2 linked regions of the Homo sapiens genome follow. The protein of the gene in region 1 interacts with the protein of each later gene in a pairwise test. Each region holds a gene or a part of one and is shown in the gene's direction. Other genes may lie near its edges. The genes, in order: ANXA8L1 and RDH12.

Region 1 (3,773 bases):
GCAGTGCCACTCACCTGCTGAGAGGTACCAGGGAGGGAGGGGCTGGGGCCGGGGCCACAGGGGTGTCCTGGCCATGAGCCTCTCCCTCGTGCTTCTGCCTTGTCAAGTCTAGAGTTAGGGAGAGAGCCAGGGAGCCCAGGACTGTTTCCCCAGCCACCAGTGGGAGGTCAGGGCGGCAAATTGATGTGCGATCTCTGATCCGAGACACTGAGGGGCATCACGAGGAGGTCTGACCATCCCCTGAGCAGAGCCCTCTCCACAGTGTTTGAAGAGTATGAGAAAATTGCCAACAAGAGCATTGAGGACAGCATCAAGAGTGAGACCCATGGCTCACTGGAGGAGGCCATGCTCACTGTGGGTAAGAGCTCAGACTTGCACGTTTTTCAGGCCACAGGGCTCACCGTGGGGCAGCACCAAAGAACAAAGGGCCTAGGGATGCGACCACAAGAGAAAGAATCCCTGTGTCACCTTCACGGGATGTCCCCCCGACTCACACTCTGCCTGTCTCCCTCACCCAGGGACTGCTCCACCTCTAGAGTCCCAGTGTGTGCTGCCAAAGATTGTTCTCTGTGCTGCCCACGTGGTGCCCAGTGCTGTGTGGGTGTGTCTGCATGAGTGTGTGTGTGCGTGAGAGTGTGTGTGCCTGAGGGTGTGTGTGCATGACTGTGGGTGGAATGTGAGTGTGTGTGTGTGAGACAGACAGTGTGTGTGTGTGCGCACACAAATGCATACGCCAGTGATTATGCCAGCCCCAACCCTGTGTGTACTCATGGCAGCCATGCAGGGAGCACTCTGGCTGTGGTTGTGAAGCCCTGGCCAGCACAAAGTCATCTTTCTGGACATGAACCAGGGGCCTGGCCCCTGCCTTCATTGCCAGTTGAAGAAACAGTGATGTGTGGCTTGAGTCCAAACTGAGTGACGGATGGTCTGATGCTGAGAAACACTGGGGATCTTCCCCACAGCAGGAAGTCAGGGCCACTCAGGAGGACCCACTCCAGAGCTCTCATGGGTTCCAGGGCTGAGATCACAATGGGAAGAGTCACTGCAGAGTAAAGAGCTGAGGCCCAGGGCAGAGGGACGTCTCTTCTCCCACTTACACACAGAGCCCAGGTCCGGACTCCTGGCCTGCAGCTCTCACCTCCACACCAGGCTGCCTCCGTGCAAAGCCAGCAGCCAGCAGGCTCCCTGCTGTTTCCTAGCCTCTCTGGGTGGACAGGGCCATCTGAGACACCCCAGCTGGCCTTGGATGCTGTGATACAATCCGGTCTATGTCAGGACATCTAATCACACCCCTGCTCCAATCTCAGCTTCCACCCCTGGATCTGGCCTGAACCCACCAAGAATGAAGTCTGCCAGCAGGGAATAGTGAAGCCATGCAGTGCTCCGTCATGCTGGGCCTTCCTATTCACTTCACCTTGAAGCCTCGCATCAGTCTCACTTCCCAGATGAGTCAGGGAGGTTGAGTAATGAAGCCATACTGCACCATCAAGGCAGGAAGTGAACACATGCCTACCTCACTCAAAGCCCATGCTCCTTCTGCAGCCCTAAGTGAAAATGCCAACCTTCCCCACCCAGATGCCAAGTCTCTGAGCAGTACCCATGGGAGCAAGCATGGGCCCAGTCTCTGGACCAGACGCCCCCAGGTGCCTTAGTCCTGTGGGGCCAAACTCCACTTGTCACATGGGAATTCAAAATGCAGGGTTTCTGCTGATAAGTGTGAGAGAGAGGGCACTCTGAGGCCAGCAGCCACCATCCCATGGTGCTTCTGTGGAGCTGAGAGGCTGGATTTTTGGTGGAGGTGTCTCTGGGTTGAGAGCCCAGGGCCTGTCCTGAGTCTGAGCTGCCCTTGGATGGGCTTGAGCTGGTGTCTTCAGACGAGCCCCACAGTCTGGTGCATTTCACATCTTACCCTTTTGCCTGCCTGCTTGGGCCTTTGGAGCTGTGCCCAGTGCCCCGGGCTACCTTCCCTGTCCCACGCCACCTGACACAAAGCCTCTCACATTGGGAAAGGCACGGAACAAAGAAATATGCCAAGCCTTGCACAACACTGACTCTTAAGACCTAAGGCAAGACATAAAGTTGTAGGCAGTGCCACCTACCAGCTCCAGACATTAACACAGCTTTCTTGTTTGCCAGTGAAATGCACCCAAAACCTCCACAGCTACTTTGCAGAGAGACTCTACTATGCCATGAAGGTAACTGTCCTGTCTTCTTCTTCCTGACGCTCACCCTACATAGCACCAAGTGCAAAGCCAAGGAGCTCAAAGCCACCACGATCCTCCACACGGGGGAGTTATCTTACCCAAACCTGTCGTGGATCAGAAAGGTTTTAGTTCTCGGAGGTGAAATTGAGTCTGGGAAAGGGACGCTGCATCTCCAGAGGTGAATAATTCCCTGAAACTAAAACCATTGCCCGTTTTCTCTGATTGATGGTTGCTGATATCCCCTGAAGTTAGTTCCACACCCGAAACCCAAGCCCTCTGGCCACTTCTGCCCAGGAAATGAGAGAGGGCATGCGATTCCCTTGGCCATGTGGCCCCAGCTGACATGAGACTGGTCAGGGATGAAGGTGAGCAGGAAGGCCCTGCCTGTGAAATTCCTGGCTGAGCTGATTGCTGCCATTGCTCTAGTAGGAAGTCTTGTTCCTGGAGCAGTGAGTATTTTGTGTCTAGAATCTGATGTGGCAAACCAAACATACTGCAGTTTGGAGCACTTGGCATCATAAAGGAAGAGTTCTGGGCAGTGGGTGAGAAGGAATTAAGGGAGTGGACACCCTAAGCCACCAAAGCTTCCCTCCTAATGCTTCCCTGGCTGAAGCACAGGCTCCTTCCCACATCTCCCTCCCTCTAAAAGCCCCAGAACCCAACCACACAGATCCGTCCATCACTCAGAGATGGACAGGAAAGGTGAGGCAGGATTGTTGATGGCTGCTGTCTTGCCCAGGGAGCAGGGACGCGTGATGGGACCCTGATAAGAAACATCGTTTCAAGGAGCGAGATTGACTTAAATCTTATCAAATGTCACTTCAAGAAGATGTACGGCAAGACCCTCAGCAGCATGATCATGGTAAGCAGGCATTCCCAATGCTGAGGCCAGCCTGAAACCCAGACATTCAGGGAAACCTGGAGGCTGTGGCCAACACTACGTGAGCCCCTCCCTTCCCAGTGGGCACCATGTGCTTGCATTCATGACCATGTGGTGTGTGCAGGGAACAGCAGAGGTCAGTGTGGCTGGATCCCAAGGGGAATGGGGGGCAGAGGGGAGATGCAGAGACCAGGGCACAGAGGCTCCCCTGTGTCCCACTCAGAAAGTTGGTTTCACATTTAAGTTATGGTTGCTCCTTGGAAAAGACACCAAATCCTTGCAGAAGAAGCCACCTCTGAATAGTCAATGAGATGAACTAGTCCGGTAGGAATCGGGCCCACCGCTCAAATCCAGATTTAAGTAGTCCTGGCGGCCAACTTCTAAGGAGATAAGTCAGATGAGCGCCAATAGACTATCTAACCAGATTCCAATTAGCAAAAGTTCTGGAGCCTTCAAAACACAGACTGATTATCACGCTGCGATAATTGGGAGAAACAGCTCTTCTGGGGGTGTCTGCAAATTGAGGTCTTGATGATTTCATTAGCAGAAGTCACATTAGGACAAATGTATCCCCAAGTTTTCTTTGGCTACTAAGTCAAGTCTCTAGCTCTTCTGCAAATGTCGTTGTTAAGTGCACTTTTCAAGAAACACATAGCTGACAATAGGTGGAAAAGACATTTCTGTTTCCA
Region 2 (3,500 bases), on another chromosome or scaffold:
TGAAGGCAATGCGGTTCTCTCCACCACCTGTGTGCATGGGAGGTGCCGGACTCGCTGGGCTGTTCATCCTGAGAAGCTGAGTTTGTGCCTGATGATGCAATCCAGGTTTGGGTTGGGCCTGCAAACAGAATGCCGTTGCTTTGTTAAGGAAACTTACAGTACAAACTTATGTGTTGGGAAGAGTTGCTTTTCTGGCTTTATTTTATACTCGTGTGCCGCTTTTCCATGAAAACTTTGCAGCTTTCTGAAAGCTTTTAAAGAAGACTGTCGCTGTTGGTTATGCCATGGAGATCTGGATCGTTTTTCTCCTTCTTTAAGCTTTTGGCTCACTTGATTCATGAATTTTTAAATACCAATTAGCACAAAGTGCTAGGGGAACGTCCTCTCTCTTCGGTGTGAACTCTGTCCCTCAATGCTGCCAAGATTGGCACTATCTGTTGAAATATAGAAGTAGAAATTTTAGTGCTGAATCTTATCATGAACTCAATGAGCAACTAGAGTCTGGGAGTAAAGGGAAGCCCAGGGTGAAATCTCTTTCCCATTCCATGACAGAATCCAGCCCTGTCTGCTCTGTTGTCCCGCTTTGTTCAAGGCTTTTCATCAGTGCAGTATTTATTCCGTGAAGCACTGGAAATAGTCTTAGTGTCTGATGAGAGGGGAATGGATAAGTGATAATAGCTAATGTTGCTTGAGTTTTTATAATGTGTTTGGTACTCAGTTCTGAGTGTGTAATGTGTATTAATTCATATAATCATCACAACCCTGCGAGGCAGGTAATATTACCCCAAGTTTTCACATGAAACTGAGGCGCAAGATAATTAAGAAACTTGCTCAAAGTCATATAGCTTATAAGTGGTAGATCTGGGATTTACGCCCTGGCAATCTGGCTCTAGAGCTGTGCCATTCAGTATGGTAGCCACTAGCCACATGTTGCTATTGAGCACTTGAAATATGGCTAGTCCAGATTGAGATGCACTGTAAGTGTACAGTGCATACCAGATTTTTGAAGACATACAGGTTGAGCATCACAAATCTGAAAATTCGGAGTCCGGAATATTTCAGTAAGCATTTCCTTTGAGTTGCATGTTGCTGCTAAAAATGTTTTGGATTTCAGAGTATTTCGGGTTTTAGATTTTTGGGGTTTGAGATGCTCAGCTGGTAAGTACAATGCAAATATTTCATAATTCAAATAAATGTAAAATCCTAAATACTTCTGATCCCAAGCATTTTTTTTTGAGATGGATTTTCACTCTTGTCACTCAGGCTGGAGGGCAATGGCTTGATCTTGGCTCACTGCAACTTCAGCCTCCTGGGTTCAAGCGATTCTCCTGACTCAGCCTCCTGAGTAGCTGGGATTACAGGTGCCCGCCACCACACCTGACTAGTTTTTGTATTTTTAGTCGAGATGGGCTTTCACCATGTTGGCCAGGCTGGTCTTGAACTCCTGACGTCAGTTGATCCACCTGCCTTGGCCTCCTAAAGTGCTGGGATTACAGGCGTGAGCCACCGCGCCCAGCCCCAAGCATTTCTGATAAGGGATGCTCAACCTATAGTATAAAAAAAGAAGTGTAAGTTATCTCATTTTATATTTTTAAATGAGATAAAAGATATCTCATTTTTTATATTGATTGCATGCTAAAATGATTTTGCTATTTGTGGGTTAAATAAAGTACATATTTATTAACTCAATAAATGAATGTGTAATTAAATGTTACTAAATAAATTTCACCAATTTCTTTTTACATTTTAAATGTAGCTGCTAGAAAATTCAAAATGACATATGTGGCTCACAATTGTGTTTCTCATCATATTTCTTTCTTTCTTTTTTTTTTTTTTTTTTTTTTTTGGAGACATAGTCTCACTCTGTTGCCCAGGCTGGAGTGCAATGGCATGATCTTGGCTCACTGCAACCTCCACCTCCTGGGTTCAAGGGATCCTCCTGCCTCAGCCTCCCGAGTAGCTGGGATTACAGGTGCATGCCACGACGCCCAGCTAGTTTTTGTATTTCTAGTAGAGATGGAGTTTTGCCATGTTGACCAGGCTGGTCTTGAACTCCTGACCTCAAGTGATCCGCCCACCTCAGCCTCCCAAAGTGCTGGGATTGCAGGCGTGAGCCACTGCGCCTGGTCTTCCCATCATATTTCTATTGGACAGTTGCTACTCTAGAGTCTGAGTGTTTAACATTGCTGCCTTAAATATGTAATAAAATATACAGTCATTAAATATCATATTTTAATATAATATGTAATTAATATAAAAATGTTAGTGATATAATGTTGTAAGGAAAAAACTGGAATACAAAACTATATGATTTTTTATACATAGAGAACAGTCTGGAGGGATAACCAGCCACTGGGCAGTAGTGGTTACTTCCAGGGAGTTTTAGGGAGAGCCAAGCAGAGTGTGAAGGATGATTTTTATCTTTTTATTCTAGGTGTTTTTTTATTATTTAAAAATTTTGCCAGGTGCAGTGGCTCATGCATGTAATCCCAGCACTTTGGGAGGCTGAGGTGGGTGGATCACTTGAGGTCAGGAGTTGAGACCAGCCTGGCCAACGTGGTGTAACCCCATCTCTACTAAAAATACAAAAAATTAGCTGATCATGTTGGTGGGTGCCTGTAATCCCAGCCACTCAGGAGGCTGAGGCAGGAGAATCACTTGAACCTGGGAGGCGGAGGCTGCAGTAAGCCGAGATCACTCCACTGCACTCCAGCCTGGGCGACAGAATGAGACTCTGTCTCAAAAAAAAAAAAAAAAAAAAAAATTTAAGGCTGGGTGTGGCGGCTCATGCCTGTAGTCCCAGTACTTTGGGAGGCCAAGGCAGGAGGATTGCTTGAGCTCGGGAATTCCATACCAGCCTGGACAACAAAGTGAGACCCCCATCTCTACTAAAAATCAAAAAATTAGCCCAGCATTGTGGTGCATGCCTGTAGTCCCAGCTACTCGGGAGGCTAAGGTGGGAGGATGGCTTCAGCCTGGGAGGTCAAGGCTGCATGATAGTGCCACTGCACTCCAGCCTGGGTGATGAAGTGAGACCCTATCTCAAAAAAAAAAAAAAAATCCTCCTCAAACTAGATACAGTATGATCCCGGTTTTATGTAAGAGAGAAAGAGAGAGAGAGACTATATCTCTATTTATATCCAAACAAAGCAAAAAAAAAAAAAAGACTGTACAGAAAGCAACTAAATGATAGACTTTTCTTTTTTTTGAGACGGAGTTTCGGTCTTGTCGCCCAGGCTGGATTTCAGTGGCGTGATCTCCACTCACTGCAACCTCTGCCTCCTGGGTTCAAGCCATTCTCCTGCATCAGCCTCCCAAGTAGCTGGGATTACGGGTGCCCACCACCACACCCGGCTAATTGTTTTTTGTATTTTTAGTAGAGGCAGGGTTTCGCCTTGTTGGCCAGGCTGCTCTTGAACTCCTGACCTCAGGTGATCCACCCACCTCAGCCTCCCAAAGTCCTGGGATTACAGGTGTGAGCCACCGTGCCCAGCCGTGAT

What was found.
Region 2: the proteins of ANXA8L1 (region 1) and RDH12 interact in a two-hybrid assay, tested with the Homo sapiens proteins (one large-scale study listed by BioGRID).

What each region holds. Positions count from the first base shown.
Region 1 is NC_000010.11:46,385,450-46,389,222, forward strand, and holds part of ANXA8L1 (annexin A8-like protein 1), read left to right. Parts: coding exon 1-24; intron 25-262; coding exon 263-358; intron 359-2,136; coding exon 2,137-2,195; intron 2,196-2,943; coding exon 2,944-3,066; intron 3,067-3,773.
Region 2 is NC_000014.9:67,729,386-67,732,885, forward strand, and holds part of RDH12 (retinol dehydrogenase 12), read left to right. Parts: exon of another isoform or gene 1-356; coding exon of another isoform or gene 357-434; intron 435-3,500. UniProt on the Homo sapiens protein: Retinoids dehydrogenase/reductase with a clear preference for NADP. Displays high activity towards 9-cis, 11-cis and all-trans-retinal. Shows very weak activity towards 13-cis-retinol.